2 linked regions of the Homo sapiens genome follow. The protein of the gene in region 2 interacts with the protein of the main gene of each other region in a pairwise test. Each region holds a gene or a part of one and is shown on either strand. Other genes may lie near its edges.

Region 1 (7,964 bases), on a different chromosome or scaffold from region 2:
GGGTGGGGATGCCGTCCTGAGGCCGAGGCCGGAAGGAGCCTGGGTGCGCCTGAGGTGCCCAGCGGTGTGGGCCGCATCTTCCGCCATGGGTGAGAGGTGGTCCCGCTCAGCTCAGCCAGGGTGGTGAGACCTTGGTCACAGGGTGGCGCTGGCTGCTGGGGCCAAGGGAAGATGGGAGCCAGGCATGGGCCTGAGAGGGGCTGCTGCGTGTTTGGGGAGAGGGCTGGATTTGTGAGGGTCTCAGAGCCACAGTTGGTGGGATTGGGGGCAGTGAGGGAGGAGTGACTTGGGTTTCGGGTCTGCTCGGCCAGTTGGGTGGTTGGACTGTCAGCTGAGACTTGGAAGGAGATGTGGGAGCCGGAATGCAGGGGGGCTGAGTCTGGGCAGCCGTGGCCGGAGGGCAGCCAGGGTTCGGGGCCTGGGCCTTGCCGGTGAGTGTCACCCTGCTCCTGGCCCCCTCCTGAGTCCTAGCCACCAGCCTCAAGTGGCCCCCACCTCGTGGCTGTCCTTGTTTCCAGGTGACACCTTGTTTGTGGCTGGCTGCGGGAAGTTCTATGAAGGGACTGCGGATGAGATGTGTAAAGCTCTGCTGGAGGTCTTGGGCCGGCTCCCCCCGGACACAGTAGGCAGCGCCTCCCTGCGGGCCGGGGTGTGGGGGGCCTTAACCAGGGCGGGGCTGCTCTCCCTCCTGGCACCCTCTCACCGGACACCCCCCGGGGGCATCCAGGTCCCGTCCCTGAGGACTTTCACAGGTGGTAACAGCCTTCCGAGCTCACCTGTCACCTCTCTCCTCAGAGAGTCTACTGTGGCCACGAGTACACCATCAACAACCTCAAGTTTGCACGCCACGTGGAGCCCGGCAATGCCGCCATCCGGGAGAAGCTGGCCTGGGCCAAGGTGAGTGGGGCCGTCACTGCGCAGTGCCTTCCTGTGGGCTGCTCAGGGCCGCTGTGCACAGCGGGGTCGCCAGAGTGGGTAGACACTCACACTCTGAGCCCAGAGAGCAGGCCTGGGATTCAGGCCAGTGTGGCCCAGCTCGCCCTGCACGGCAAACCCAGGGGTTCTATGGAGATCCCTCTGCCTCGGAGGGTCTGGAGTAGGCCTCAGACGCTGCGTGTGTAAAAAGCGCCCAGCCTGTTCCCACATTCTGAGCAGTAGGGTCAGGCTGGCAGCACGTGGCTCTGCTGGCTCTCCAGGCCACAGAACGTGGCTCTGTGTCCAAAGGACTCTTATCTCCACGGTGGCCCCACGTGAGCCTCCATGGCGTAGCCCAGGCCAGCTGGGCCAAAGTCTGCCAGGAGCAGGACGGGGTTCTCCAGGGGTGTGTTTCCCCGAATTCACTGGAAACGGTGTCACAAGCACGCACGCCTGGGTGGTCTCAGGCGTGGGCTCCCTCTGCTGAGTGGAGTGAGAGTCGCTGCCTCTGACAGGGTTGTTTTAAATAAATCACCCGGTTTTTTGAGCATCTTTTTCAATTTCTTAGAGTAGAGGTTAACATTATTTTACAGTATTTACTCATGCAAATTCCAACTCTAAATCAGATGAATCATAAATACTCATCTTTTTTTTTTTTTTAATTTTTTTTTGAGACGGAGTCTCCCTCTGTCGCCCAGGCTGGAGTACAGTGGCGTAATCTCGGCTCACTGCAACCAGCACCTCCCGGGTTCAAGAAATTCTCCCTGCTGGCCGGGCGTGGTGGCTCACGCTTGTAATCCCAACTACTCAGGAGGCTGAGGCAGGAGAATCGCTTGAACCCAGGAGGCAGAGGTTGCAGTGAGCCAAGATCGCTCCACTGCGCTCCAGCCTGGTGACAGAGCGAGACTCCGTCTCAAAAAAAAAAAAAAAAAAAAAAAAAAATTCTCCCTGCCTCAGCCTCTTGAGTAGCTGGGATTACAGGCGCCAGCCAACACGCCCAGCTAATTTTTCTACTTTTAGTAGAGATAGGGTTTTGCCATGTTGGCCAGGCTCGTCTTGAACTCCTGACTTCAGGTAATCCGCCTGCCTTGGCCTCCCAAAGTGCTGAGATTACAGGCGTGAGCCACGTCACCTGGCCCGTGTGTCTGTCTTGAGTGGACAGATTGCAGTTTGAGGAATGTTGATGATGTTTGCACTTGTGTAATCCCCTCCACAGTCCAGATGTGGAACTTACCACTACCCCAAAGGCTCCTGTGTCCCTCCCATGTGGCGTCCCCGCCAGCTGTTGCTCTGCTGTGACCTCAGGTCACTTTCTAGTTTCCCATGAACAGAATCTCATTGCTCCGTCATCTCTGTGGCATTCTCGGCCCCGCTGATGTTGGTGAGGGTCAGCCACGCTCTTTGCTTCTGAGTAGCCCATTGTGTGGAAATGCTACAATTTGTTTATGCATTTGTCTGTTTCCAGTTTTTTGCTATTTGAATAAAGCTGCTATGGACATTTGTGTACAAGTCTTTTGTGAACATGTTTTTATTGCTCTTGGATACTACCTAAGAGTGGAATTGCTGTGTTGTGTGGTTAAAGGTGTGAACCGTTTTCCAAAAATGGTTGTACTGTTCTACAGTCCCCCACCAATGCTTGAGTTCCGGGGCCTCCATGCTGTGCCAGCACTGCTTGGTGTTGTCGGTCTCTCCAATTTTTGCCATTCTAACTTGCCTGTGGTGGCGTCTCACTGCCTTTAAAATGTGGATTTCCCCATGTGACCATCTTTTCATGTGTGTCGGCCTTTGGATGCCTTCTCATGAAGTTTATGTTCAATCTTTTGTCCATTTTAAATATTGGGTTTGGCCTGTTGGGCTGCTCTTGTAAGAGTTCCTTATATCATCTGGAAACAAGTCTTTGTGAGATATATATATATATGTGTGTGTGTGTGTGTGTGTGTGTGTATATACATATATATATTTATTTGTTTGTTTTTTGAGACAAAGTCTTGCTCTGTCGCCCAGGCTGGAGTGCAGTGGTGTGATCTCATCTCACTGCAAGCTCTGCCTCCCGGGTTCAAGCCATTCTCCTGCCTCAGCCTCCCAAGTAGCTGGGACTACAGGTGCCCGTCACCACGCCCAGCTAATTTTTTGTATTTTTAGTAGAGATGGGTTTCACCGTGTTATCCAGGAAGGTCTCGATCTCCTGACCTCGTGATCCACCCGCCTCGGCCTCCCAAAGTGCTGGGATTACAGGCGTGACCCACCACGCCCAGCTGAGATATATATTTAAAAGATGTTTTTCTCTCCCAGCTCATGGCTTGCCTTTTCATTTTCTTAACATTGTCTTTTGGAAAATAGTTTATAGTTTTGGTGAAGTTCCATTTACTTATTTTTTGTTTGTTTCTTTTTTTTTTTTTTGAGACGGAGTTTCACTCTTGTTGCCCAGGCTGGAGTGCAGCGGCGCGATCTCAGCTCACCGCAACATCCACCTCCTGGGTTTAAGCGATTCTCCTGCCTCAGCCTCCCGAGTAGCTGGGATTACAGGCATGCACCACCACACCCGGTTAATTTTGTATTTTTAGTAGAGATGGGGTTTCTCCATGTTGATCAGGCTGGACTCGAACTCCTGACCTCAGGTGATCTGCCCACCTTGGGCTCCAAAAGTGCTGGGATTACAGATGTGAGCCACTGCGCCCGGCCTACTCAATTTTTCTTTTATGTTTCTTGTGCCCTTTCTAAGATATCTTTGCATACCCTTAGCTCACAAAGACTTTCTCCTGTGTTTCTTCCTAGAAGTTTTAAAGTCTTAGCTTTTATATTTACAAACAATTTACAGTGTTCCCTTTCAAGATGGTGTTTGTGTGTGGTGCGAGGTGAGGGTAGAGGTTCACCCTCTCGCAGTGTGATCCCGAGGTGTTCAGGGCTGTCTGTCGAAGGACTGTCCTTTCCTCCCTGGATTGCCTTGGCACCTTTCTGAAAAGAATGGGCCCTCTATGCCCGAGTCTGCTTCTGGTCTCTGCTCTGTTTCGTTGGTCTCTATGACTTGCCACGGTGTCCGAGGACAGCACCTTGATGACTGTAACTCTGTGCTGAGTCTTGGCACTGGTATGTGTGAATCCTCCAGTGTTCTTTTTCAAAATGGTTTTAGTTGTTTTAAGCCTTTTACATTTCCGTTTTCAGAATCATCTCGTGAACTTCTATCAGAAAAGCTAGCCTGGCTGCTGATTGGGACTGTTGTGATAACTGATGTGGCGAGAATTGCGATCTTAACATTGAGTGTTTCTGTGAGCTTTCCATCTATGAATGTCTTTAGCTTTTCTCAGCAGTGTTTTGAAATTTGCGTGTTCAAGGTCTTGCACGTGTTACTAAATGGATCCCTAAGCACTTCTGGTCATGATTATTTGTTGATACTAGTTATAAATACAGTGGATGCGTATTAACTTCCTGGGTGTCTTAGTCTGTGTGGTGTTGCTATAAAGGAATACTTGAGGCCGGGTGACTTATAAAAGGAGGTTTATGTGGCTCATGGTTATGCAGGCTATATAAGCAGCATGGCCTGGGCGTCTGCACCTGGTGAGGCCTCAGGCTGCTTCTGCTCATGGCAGAAGGCGAAAGGAGCTGGTGGGTGTGAAGCATGTGGCCAGAGGAAGGAGAGAGTGGGGGAGGCAAAAGTTTCTTTTAAACAACCAGATCCTGTGGGAACTAACAGCAAAAACTCGCACTTGGAGCAGGGCACCAAGCCGTTCACAAAGGATTCCCCCCATGATCCAAACACCTCCATTAATTGGGGATCAGATTTGAGCATGCGTTTGGAGGGATGGACATCCCAGCCGCAGCCCCGTGTGAACACCCAGGAGAAGGGAGTGGCCGGGCTGGACGGGAGGTGTGTTTGACTTTTAAAGAAACTGCCAAACTCCCCTTCCCCGGTGCTTGTGGTGTTTGCTTTCCTGCTGGGAAGGCGTGGGCACACCAGCTGGTCCGTGTCTTTCGGCACACCACACGGTGGAGCCAGCCCACGCGGTGGAGCCAGCCGTTTGAAAGGAGGTGCTGGAGCCCAGTCCCTGGTGAGAGGCCGCCTCCTGCAGGGCGCCTCCCATTCTGCGGCCTCTGGTTTTCTTAGCAGTATCTTTTGAGCCAACATTTTTAATTTTAATGAAGTCCAATAGATTCTTTTATGCTTCATTCTTTTTTGTCTCCCATCTAAGAAATCTTTGTTTATCCCAAGGTCAAAAAATTTTCTCCTGTATTTTATTTTTGGAATTTGTATAGTTTTAAAACTTAGTATGAACTCCCACCCCCCAAATGTCTGCTGGATCTGTAATGATATTCCTGCTTTCATTCCTGATTTTGACAATTTGTGTGTTTTTTTTTTGTTTTTTTTTTTTTTTGAGACAGCGTTTCGCTCTTGCCGCCCAGGCTGGAGTGCAATGGCGCGATCTCGGCTCACCGCAACCCCTGCCTCCCGGGTTCAAGCGATTCTCATGCCTCAGCCTCCCAAGTAGCTGGGACTACAGGCATGTGCCACCATGCCTGGGTAATTTTTATATTTTTAGTAGAGATGGGGTTTTACCATGTTGGCCAGGCTGATCTCAAACTCCTGACTTCGTGATCTGCCCGCCTCAGCCTCCCAAAGTGCTGGGATTACAGGCGTGAGCCACTGTGCCTGGCCTGTCATTCTTTTTTTTTTTTTTTTTGGTTGGGGAGAGACAGCGTCTTGCTCTGCTGCCCAGGCTGGAGTGCAGTGGCACAATCTCGGCTCACTGCAACCTCCGCCTCCTGGGTTCAGGCGATTCTGCTGCCTCAGTCTCCCGTACCTGGGACTACAGGCCTGTGCCATCATGCTTGGTTAATTTTTGTATTTTTGGTAGAGAGGGGGTTTACACGATGTTGCCTAGGCTGGTCTTGAACTTCTGGGCTCAAGTGATCCTCCTGCCTTGGCCTCCCAAAGTGCTGGGATTACAGGCATGTGCCAACCACACCCGGCCTCATTCTTTTTGATAGGTGTAAAATATACTATTGCGTGGGTGTCACCCATAAATCATTTTACCAATCCCCATAGGAGGGACGTTGAGAGTTTTCAACTCCTTTTGCACCCTGGAGTCCAGAACCCACACGAGGTGGAGCTCTTCTGAGCTGTGCTGCAAGGACTGACCTTATTTTTTTATTTTTATTTTTTTGAGGCAGAGTCTCACTCTGTCACCCAAGCTGGAGTGCAGTGGTGCGATCTCGGCTCACTACTGCAGCCTCCGCCTCCCGGGTTCAAGCGATTCTCCTGCCTCAGCCTCCCAAGTAGCTGGAATTACAGACATGTGCCACCACGTCTGGCTAATTTTTGTATTTTTAGTAGAGACGGGGTTTCACCATGTTGGCCAGGCCGGTCTCAAACTCCTGACCTCAGGTGATCCACCTGCCTCAGCCTCCCCCAGTGCTGGGATTACAGGTGTGAGCAACCGCGCCCGGCCTGTTGTTCTTTCTTTGGGAGACAGTGTCTTGCTCTGCTGCCCAGGCTGGAGTGCAGTGGCATGGTCTTGGCTCGCTGCAGCCTCCACCTCCTGGGTTCAAGTGATTCTCCTGCCTCAGCTTCTCCAGTAGCTGGGATTACAGGCACCCGCCACCACACCCGGCTGATTTTTTCTATTTTAGTAGAGATGGGGTTTCACCGTGTTGCCCAGGCTGGTCTCGAACTCCTGAGTTCAGGCAATCCACCCACCTCGGCCTCCCAAAGTGTTAGGATTACAGGCGTGAGCCACTGCGCTCGGCTGACTGACCTTATTTTTGTCTTTAAATGCTTCGTACTTTGTAGGAAAAATAGCTAGAACATTAAAACTCGTTTTAATAGGTAACCTAAAAGCTTATGACAATTTGTACTTCCTCTGTTTTAAAGGTCTCCTTAGAAGTGTTAACTTTGCTTCCCTCGTAGGAGGCAGAGGGAGATTTCTTAGGATTGAGAATGTTGGTGGGAACACAGGGAATATTTTAAAACATTCTCAGATTCTTTTCGCCAGAAGGGAAGAACAGATTAGTGAGAAACCATCTTGGCATCTACCAGACCCCCGCTTGGTGCAGCTCTACCAGCTGAAGAGTCACTCACCGACACCACTGCCCATAGCGGGTGGGGAACCTCGGGGGTGAGGCGCGGTGGTCTTGAGCCTGTGCGTGGGCACCAGCAGCTTCTGTCAGAGCTCTGCCCTGAGGCCCTCCTGGTGCGGCTGCGGTAGAAGGGCCGGGGCTGTGTGGAGACCCCGCTGTTGCCGCCCTGTGTTTTCCTGCTAACTGTTGGCCCCGTGGCTGGGTTTGCATTCTCCTCCCCCCGCCCCCACCCCATCTGCCCTGGTCAGTGCTGGTCGGAAGGGAGACCATCTCCATCTCGAGAGGAGGTGACCAGCTGCCTGCCTGCAGGGGCTTGGGTGGCCTCCCCTGCTGCTGGTCCCTGTGCCCCTCCTCCCCGTGCTTGCTGTGAGGCTGCAGCTGTGGCGGTTTCTTTTCTGTGTCTCCTGCATTGCTGTTACCTCCATAATGTGAAATGTAAACCATGTGAATGAAAAGGAAGCTCCGTCCCTGTCGTCCTCTCCAGGCCGGTGCGGGAAGGCGGATGTGTGGCTCATCCCGGACGCTGGCTTCTCTTCCCTCTTCCACACGCGCACACCCGCCGGGCTCTGCTCACCTTGCCTTCTCAGCCTTGTCAGTCGGGCAGTGTCCTAAGGTTACCAGGAGGTGTTCTGAAGCATTTTTTGAGACGTGATGTCGCTGTCACCCAGGCTGGAGGGCAGTAGCACAGTCTTGGCTCACTGTAGCCTCGACCTGTGCTCAAGCGATCCTCCCACCTCAGCCCCCTGAGTAGCTGGGACCACAGGTGCCTGCCACCATGCCTGGCTAGTTTTTTGTATTTTTAGTAGACACAGGGTCTCGCCATGTTGTCCAGGCTGGTCTCAAACTCCAGGGCTCAAGTGATCCATCTGCCTTAGCCTCCCAAAGTGCTGGTATCACAGACGTGAGCCTCCGTGCCTGGTCTGCCATCCTGTGAAGTTCCCGTGATAAAGTGGTGCGTTTCTCTTGCAGGAGAAGTA
Region 2 (8,820 bases):
ATCCCGCAGCATTTGCAGTGCCTCCTTATATAGGGGGTCGTAATCATAGATGCGGGCAGCGAAGATACGCAGTCTCACGTGTGTGTTCTCCTGAAGGAACGCACGCACTTCCCCGGCACAGCCCCAGGAGAAGCAGGGGCTCCAGGAGATGAACCAAGTGACCCTGTAGATCTGGGCCGGGTCCAACTGCAAAGAAGGAACCAGGTCCAAGAAGCGCAGCTCCGCATGGCGGCCGTAAAAGCCACAGAGAAGATTCTTAGCCTAGAAAAGGAAACAGAGTGTGAGGTGATGTGTGGTGAACAGGGAGGGAGCGCCTGGACCAGGTGGGGCTGGGGAGGCGGGGGCCTCCAGCACGAAATTAGAGGGGTCACCAAAACCCCGGTTATTAGGATGCATGATTTTCTATGCAATATTAAAAATATCAGATGTTATGCAAAAATCCCAAGATAAGCAAAATGTTGCCCATTTAAATACAAACAGATCAGGAGCAATGAGGTTTTATTTTGCCCCAGCTCCACTATACACAGGACAGCACTCTCCTGCCAGGCTTTATTAAAATCTTTGCTTTTATTCATCATGATCTATTTGTATTAAATTTGCGTTTTAAAATATTGCATTAATTATTAAATTAAAATGTGTTTTCTCTAATTACTGAGCATTTGGAGCCCCCATCAATTTTGTACCCAAGGTCAGAGCCTTCAGGACCCTCACCCCAGACCCAGCCCTGCAGGGAGGGGCTACAGAGATGGGGGCAGGGAGGAGGGGCCGGCGGAGCCCCGAGGTCATTGGCCTGATGGCCCTGAGTGAGTGTGCTTCCTTCAAGGGGAGATTGACCTGCTCTACTCATCAACTCCCCTACTCCCATCCCATCTGTGGCCCATAATTCTAGAAGCTTCTATTCTGTGCCACAACCTGTGCTGAGCCCAAATGTGATATAGACTTAGGCCAAAATGAATTCCACCAAAAGTAGTGGGGAAGAGAAGACCAGCAGGACTCACTCCAACGTGGGAAGGTCCCTGTGACATGGTATAATTGTCATTATTTTGACTTATAGAAATATGGTATTTACTCCAAACTCCAGAGAAAAGGATTTTCCACTAAGACTAGGAATCGGTCAAGTTGGGGACAGCAGGGCAGCAAGGACTGTGATTGTGATGGGGACAAAGACAGGGAGGGACTCCATCAGCAGTGATGCAGGGTGGAGTGGATGACATGGTTTGTGCTGAGAAGGGGCTGTGGGTCGTTCCTGGGGGAGTCCCACTGCTTAGGCGGTGATGGAGACTGGCACCCTTGAAAGGATGTTCCAAGCAGTGTGTGTGGATCCAGCGAGGCCCACATTGAGCTCATAGAGCCCAGAGAAGGTCCCAGTTTCCAGCACCGGAGCCAAGCATTACCTGGTCTCTCCAGACAGAGGCTGTGCTGGGTAGGGGCCAGGGAAGAAAGTCCCCCGGGCTCAGGGCCCCTCAGCCTGGCCTGGCCCAGCTCCTCCCCAAATGCTGGACATCCCTGCATCCTGACATGGGACCTGTTCTGGCCTTGCTGTGGGCTCCACCCTGGGCAGGACAGGATCCCTGGTCAGCCTCTCCTGCCTCAGTCTCTCTCCGTGCAGGATGAAGCCCAGGAGAGGGCACTGGGGCATCCTGGCCTTGTGAGGTCAGGTAGGCCCTGAGTCCTCAGATCCCACATTGCTGAATTGTTCCTGGTGAGAGCTGTGTCTGTGAGGGGATCCTGGGAGGGTCCTCAGGAAGCACTTTGCCATTGGGCAGACTCAACCCCACCTGGGCATGGATAGTCACTGAAGCCGAAGTCTCCCCCCAACCCCAGGGCCAAGCAGCAGCAGCTGCAGGAAGCACAAGTGACAAACACTGCAGGAAACCACAAGTACAATCCGGAACCTTCTACCTATGAATGTCCCTGGATTGGAAGGGCCCTGCCCGGATTCGGATGGCTGGGTCGGTCACCTGGTTGTGTAGAAAGCCCCTGTGCTGGTCCATCTTGACCGAGGTGCCATTGTCCAGGCGCTCCACTTCGTAGCACAGGTAGGTCTTATGCCTTCCAATGCCATTGTTAAAGTTGGAAGTGAATATGTGTGGATCCATCAAGTGTCTGTGGACAGCCAGGGAAAAGACCAGAGGAGGAAGAGCCCTCCTGGACTGCCCTGCCTCCTCCTCCCTCCCCACACTTCCTCCCTTGCACCCCACCCTCCTTCCCCCTGCTCCGCACATCCCTTAGCACACTTCCAAACCTCCCCCTCTGACCCCTTCTATGGCTCACTGGGAGATCACTGCAGCCCTGGGGCCTGTCTAAGCCTTGTCAGGGTCTCCCCAGGGTCAGCTCAGTGTGCTCAGGCCCTCCGAGGAGGACCCTGCTCCTCTCCCTGGGGTAGAGCTGGGTCTTATTCTGTGGCCTCACCATGCACCCCTGTCCTGGCTCTGCTCACCCACAGCCCCTGCTGGAGATGGACCCTCTGGGGCTTCCTCCTGCCTGCAGGGTTAACTCCTACCACACCGAGCATCGGGACAGGGACACTCCTGAGGGGGATGACTGGGGAGAGGAACCTGCCAGGGACTTCTTTTCGGGTAATTCATAGGATTTTCCACATCCCTTAGGGTGCCCTGAGGTCTCCCAAATGTGCTTCTCAGGCAATTGAGATGGGGCAGCTCAGGACTCCTGGGCTGGAAACACCAGCCCCACCTTGAAGACCTCTCCCAGCCCCTCTCTATGCATCCTGACATAATCAGAATTAGAAAAATCTCTGTTGGGAGGCAGCACAAAAGAAAGAAAGAAAGAAGGAAAGAGAAAGAAGGAAGGAAAGAAAGAAAGAAAGAAGGAAAGAGAAAGAAGGAAGGAAAGAAAGAAAGAAAGAAAGAAAGAAAGAGAAAGAGAGATGGAGGAAGGAAGGAAGGGAGGGAGGGAGGAAGGAAGGAAAAGAAAAAGAAGGAAAGAAAGAAAGAAAAAAGAAAGGAAGGAAAAGAAAGAAAGAAGGAAAGAAGAAAGAAAGAAAAGAAAGAAAAAAGAAAGGAAGGGAGGGAGAAAGGGAGAAAGAGAGGAAGGAAGGAAGAAAGGAAGGAAAGGAAAGAAGAAAGAGAGGAAGGAAGGAGGGAGGAAGGAAGTAAAAGAAAGAAAGAAGGAAAGAATGAAAGAAAAAGAAAGAAAGAAGGAAAGAAAGAAAGAGAAAGGAAGGAAGGGAGGAAGAGAGAAAGGGAAATATTGGAAGAAAGGAAGGAAGCACAGAAGGGAAGGAAGGAGGGAGGGAAGAGAGAGAAAGAAGAAAAAGAAATAAAGAAGGAAAGAGAGAGAGAGAAAGAAAGAAGAAAGAAAGAGAGAGAGAATTGAAGGAAGGAAGGAAGGAAGGAGGAAGGAAGGAAGGAAAGAAGGAAGGAAGGTTCAAAATGTTCCCCACCATTTCGAGTAGACCTGGGCATGAATCTGGGCTCTACCACTCACTTGCTCTGTGTTCTCAAAAAAAGGAAACAAGGCTTCCTCATAGCCAAGCAGTCCTACAAGCAACCCCCTTTTCTTAATATTAGGGAGAACGAGATGACACTGAACATAAAAAGGGCTTAGGCCAAGTCCAGATACATGGAACATTTGCAAGAAATAGTAGATGCTCATTTAAAGACAAGTGAGGAGAATCCCCTCTCTGACCGTCTTCACTGGCTGGGGCACAGCACCATTATCTATTGGGATTTTCAGGCTCCCTGTGCACCTGCCCCGGGAGGTGGAAGGAGACCTGGAATTGGTACCATCGGAGGAGAGACCAGCGCTGGGACCAAAACTGGGAACCTAGAGCAAGAGGCCAGGTCCAGAGAGAGGGTCAGGAGGAAAAGAGAGGCCCCAGGGGTTTGAGGGTGAGAGGTGAGTGCTCATCAGAAAAGCTCAAAGAGGAGGCTGAGGCGCAGAGGTGCTCGGAGGGGCTTCCCATACCTGGGCCCGGATGCTGGGCTGGCTTCCATGTGCTTGTCCCTTCTCGGTTCCTGGTCTGTGTCCTCCCGCTCTTGCGACTTGCTCAAGGCGTGGTGTTAAGATCTTCACCAACATTCTCTTAGGATTCAGGAGCCTTAATATATCATCAGAGCAACCTGGAAGCTGCTGAGTCAGCGATACCCTGCCCCACCCCTTCTCCAGCTCAGGCCGAGTGTGCCACCCTCATTAGCGTCAGAACAAGGAAGTTCTCTGCCATGCCTCTGGGCAAGCTTTGGTTTTGATGTGCCCACTCTGACCACTGAACCACCAGACACTGTGGAGTGACAATGGGGATGTAGAGCTGGCCACACTTTGCTCCCTGTGGGCCACAGGAATCTGGAAGGCAGGAGACCAGGGGGCAGGTGAGAAGACAGGTGTCCACACCCTGGAGAAAGACCCTGAATAACACTCAGCGGTCCAGAGAGCAGGCTCCAGGACAGCCACCCCTGTGTCCTCCCCTGTGGCCAGTGCAGGATGTGCCTGGTCCAGGCTCCCTGGCACCTGCTGCATCCTGTGCTCTCTGTTAGGGTCCTGCATCTTCTTCCCTGGCTGTGAAGATGGGAGACCAGCAGGTCCTGCATCCTCCTATGCATCAGTGTATCTAATAATTGTAAACTAGAGGGAGGAGTGTTTTCATCCCCATTACCCAGAGGAGATGCTAAAGGCTCTGAAAGGTACCTAGAGATCCAGGCCCTCCCAGGAAACAGAGTCCCCAGCAGGGACACACCCCCACCCCCCTGTCAGAAGGGCCACCCTGTGCCCTTTCTCCCACCTCTGGGCCCTGCAGAAATGTGAGGGACACTGTGCTCCTGCCCCAAGTGAGCCCCTGAGTCCTGGCGGCAGGTCTGGCGCCGTCCTTTCCCAGGTCCACCTGCTACACCCAGCACAGCTGCCCCTGGAAGGTGCTGGCCCTGTGGGCCCAGGGGCTGTCCCCTGTCCTGCCTGCTCCCCTGTTCTGGCTCTTACTAGACCCCCCTGTCTTTGGCCAGCAATCCTCCCACCTCAGCACAGTGTCCCTGCCATTTTGGTGGGCGCCACAGACTAGAAGAGGCCCTGTTCTCTGCCGTGAGGACCCCTCCCATTCTGTCTCCAGATGTTGGACTCTTCTAGTCAAGAAGATGTCCCCTGGGGGCAGTCAACTGCCATTTGAGTCTCAGGTGGTTCTGGTGTGAGCTCATCTTGGTGTGTTGTGTGAGTCTGACCAGAGGCCACCCTTCCCAGTTCACACCAGAGGCATGCACAGCTGGACGCCCCGCAGTACCCACAGCCCACCTGGGCCAGAGACCACACTTGTACCAACTTTGGGAGGATCCAACCCTTCCCCAACCCTTCCCGGTGGCTCCTGCTGCCCAGAGTGTGATGGCCTTTCCCCTGGCTCAATAATGCATCAAATGCCCCTGGAGCAAATACACCCCTGGACCCATGGTCAGGACAGCCCCCACATGAGCTTTCTATGGGGAGACCCAGGAGAGCTGCAACAGGGGACAGCGCTTTGTTCAGCATCCCTGGGGCGTCTCCTGCATCTCCTGGCTCTGGGTCCTCAGCCTTGGGTTCCAGGGTCTCCCCAGCTCACCCACCCTGGGCACGTCCTCCTCCCTGCTGCCCCAGCTGGCCCAAGCCCCACTGGATTCATGACTGGCCCATGCCTGCCTCCCCTCTCTGATCCAGACAGGTCCAGATCTTCCAGAATGTCTCCAAATCTGTAAGATCCACTTTATGGCCCATCACAGAAACAGGCACATTGTCTGTTTCTCTTTCTAGTTTTACAAACCAGTCAGGTTAGACTATCAGCACATCTGCACATCTGTGAACCTTCTCATCTGATGACAAAGAAGGCCTCAGACTAAAATGTTTAAAGCAAAGTGGGGCCCAGCTACTGTCCAGAGTTCAATTCTCAGTAACTCACTGTACAAGCCATGCACCCAGGCAGAGCTCCAGAGAGGAGAGAAGACAGGGTGTTGGGGGGTCCCCACTAGCAGAGAGGGAGGCCAGGACCCTCCCTTGCCAAGGGTGGACAGGGGGAGCCACTGGTTGGGCGTCTGCAGCCCAGACATGAGCGGGGAACAGTCTCACTCTAGCCCCTGGACCCAGGAACTTCCATAAGGGCCACAACCTGGAACCTCTGAGTGAGCTCCCCAGGGACTTATGTGCCCTACCCCCTGCCAGTGCCCCCACCGACCACACCCACATCCTTCTGTGCACTAGGGCCTGACTCTCTCCCGGCAGGAATGTCCCAGACACAACTGGCCCCTTCCTGGTCCCCCTGCAGCCAGGGCAAGGCAGGGTCTTCAAGGCATCAGGGGAACCCAGGGGTGGTTAAGAGTGTGCACCTTCCCTAGGCCAACTGTAAGGAAGACGGAAGGAGATTCCACCCTTTCCTGGGGAAGGACAGCCCCTCCCCCATTTCTGTCCCTGGAATGTTGGCTGAACAATCAATGCGATAACTGTGAAAATGTGATAAAATACCAGGTCTTGCTGGAGTTTCCATAGGATCCTGGGGAAGGTCCAAGGCGAGAGAAAGAAACTGGATCCCCAAGGGGGAGGCAGGAGAATGGCCTCCTTAACAGGTGCAAGCTTCCCTGGGCTTTGCCCAGGTCCCCTGTAAGGAAAACTGGGGACAGGGCAAGTGCCCCACAGGGGTCCAGACTGGGTGAGAGGGACAGACCAGTGCAGAGGGACCCTGAAGTGGTCCCTGATTGCTGGGCCACTCAGCCCAGGTCACCCTGGGACCAGAACGGAGGTCCCGCTCGGGTCTGGAGTCCATGCTGCTGTGTATGAGGTCCTGGCTCTGCCATCACTGTGGGGCCCCAACCCCTACAGCCCAGAGGAACCACAGGCTTCCAGTTCCTAGCCCAGGTCTGAGCATTGTCATGGGGCTGCGTCCAGTCCCCTCCCCTGGACCCACAGGGCTCCCAGGTCATAGGCAAAGCTCTGAGATGAGACCCAGGGAAGCTGGGAGTCTGAGGAGCTCGGGAGAGAAAGGGCTCCCTGCTCCTGTGCCCCGCCCCCAACAGAGTGACATGACGAAAAGGACCCTTCCTTGGGATACCCCAGACACACCCAGATGCCCACTTCAACATTGCCCGTGGAGCAGGGTGAGGGGACAGTCTCAGCGTCCACCTGCTCCTCTGGCTTTGATTCTGGGCTCTGACAACAGCCCCGCCCTCCTCAGCCTAGAAGCAAGTGATCGAAAAAACCAAAGGATCTCTCCAAGCAAAGGGGCCAAGCTCGGGGGGGCGGGGGGGACAAAGGGTGGGGGGAATAGGGAGGTGGAGGAGGTGGCTGCACCTGCCCTTGGACAGGGGACAGTGCTGTCCTCCCAGGGTGGGGCCCTCTGTCCCCCATACCCCCACTGGGGTGGCCTCTTTGCCCAGAGTGACTACATGTTGTCCATTTTTCGGTCACTTGTTTCAAGGGGTGGAGCTGGGGCTGTTGTCAGAACCCAGAAATGAAAACGAGAGGATCGGGGTTGATGACGTGGTTTCCCCAGCACTCTTCACGGTAAGAATTGCTGCAATCCTCTGACTTGGGGCAGAGCTGAGGTAGACATCTGGGTGTGTCTGGGAAACCCCGGGGAAGGTTCCTTTCTGTCCTGTCACTGTCTGTGTGTGCTTATGTGTCTGTGTGTGTCTGTGTCTTTGCCACCAGAAGGAGTTGGGCCTGTTTGCTCATGAGCAGCTGTCGAGGAGGCCCACTGTGTACCACATATGCGGCTCCTGAGGTCCTGAGGTGGAAGGTCCCTACTGCATCCACCACCCCGCGGGGCAGAGAAGGAGCCCAGAGAAGGAGGGGCGTCCCACCTCGTGGAAGGCCAGGAATCAGGAAGACCAGTGTCCCTTGTGCTAGGGCAGCACAGTGGGGTCCCTCTCTCTTTCTCCCTCACCCCCATGCTCCTGGTCAACCTCCTCCCACTCCAGCCCTGGCTGCCAGGGCCAGCCCCCCACCTTCTCTATGGGGTGGGACGCTGGTGAGCCACGTATTCACGGGAGGACCCTCAGCACAGAATGAGCCCTGGACAGTCCATGCATGTGACTGACATTGCTCACTTCACCAGCCCATCTGCTCCCTCCCTTCCTGATGCAGGCAGCAGGAGAGGGGCAGAGACACAGACATCCCAGGAGGGAAAACCTTCTGGAAGAGCCTACTTGACATGCCTGGTATCCTTGGCTCCCAGACAAGTCTGGACCACCGATCCCACATGGTAAAAAGGACCCTTCCACAAGATACTCCCAGACACAGCCAGATGCCCCATAGAGAAGGTGGTGGGCAGGTCCTGGTGGTCCCGGCCCCACCCAGTCCTCCGAGGGAAGCATCCACAGCTGTTTCTGCTCCTTGGCCTCCGACACCCCAGTGCCATCCCCGGAGGGCCTGGGCTGCCCCTGCACGGTGAGCTCCGGGCCAGTGACAGCCGGGGGCCCTGCTCTCGGCACCACCCTCTTCCAGGGGTGGAGACCCAGGCCTTGGGTCTGTGAGCTCCTAGGTCTGTTTCTGGATGCAGCTCAGCTCCCTCTGCTATGCACAGAGTAAGTGCCCAGCATGTGTGCCATGGCTCAAGTTTGGGATGTAGGAGTCTGGGCTGGGAGGAAGGGCCTGGCTTCCGCCTCTGGCTTGGGATGGAGAGGGCACCAAGCTCATGGTGTCACTCGTGTCACTTGGCCGTTCACTGGTGCTCGGCAGAGGTTCTCTCGCAGGCTCCTGTGTTTACTGTATGGTGTCTTCCGCTGTGCAGAAATTTCAAATATGGCCCAGTAAAATATATCAGGCTGTCTTCCCTTGGGCTCACATCTAAGACCATGGCTGCTCCACCCTTCCTATGTGTAGAAATTCTTACCTGTCTCTCCACGGTATGTCGCT

Evidence for each region.
Region 1: the proteins of APOBEC3A (region 2) and HAGH interact in binary tests that used the Homo sapiens proteins (3 or more experiments, as listed by UniProt).

Annotation. Positions count from the first base shown.
Region 1 is NC_000016.10:1,809,826-1,817,789, reverse strand, and holds part of HAGH (hydroxyacylglutathione hydrolase, mitochondrial isoform 1 precursor), read left to right. Parts: intron 1-518; coding exon 519-622; intron 623-795; coding exon 796-897; intron 898-7,956; coding exon 7,957-7,964. UniProt on the Homo sapiens protein: Thiolesterase that catalyzes the hydrolysis of S-D-lactoyl-glutathione to form glutathione and D-lactic acid.
Region 2 is NC_000022.11:38,952,828-38,961,647, reverse strand, and holds the start of APOBEC3A (DNA dC->dU-editing enzyme APOBEC-3A), read right to left. Parts: upstream 4,040-8,820; 5' UTR 3,957-4,039; coding exon 3,928-3,956; intron 2,107-3,927; coding exon 1,962-2,106; intron 262-1,961; coding exon 1-261.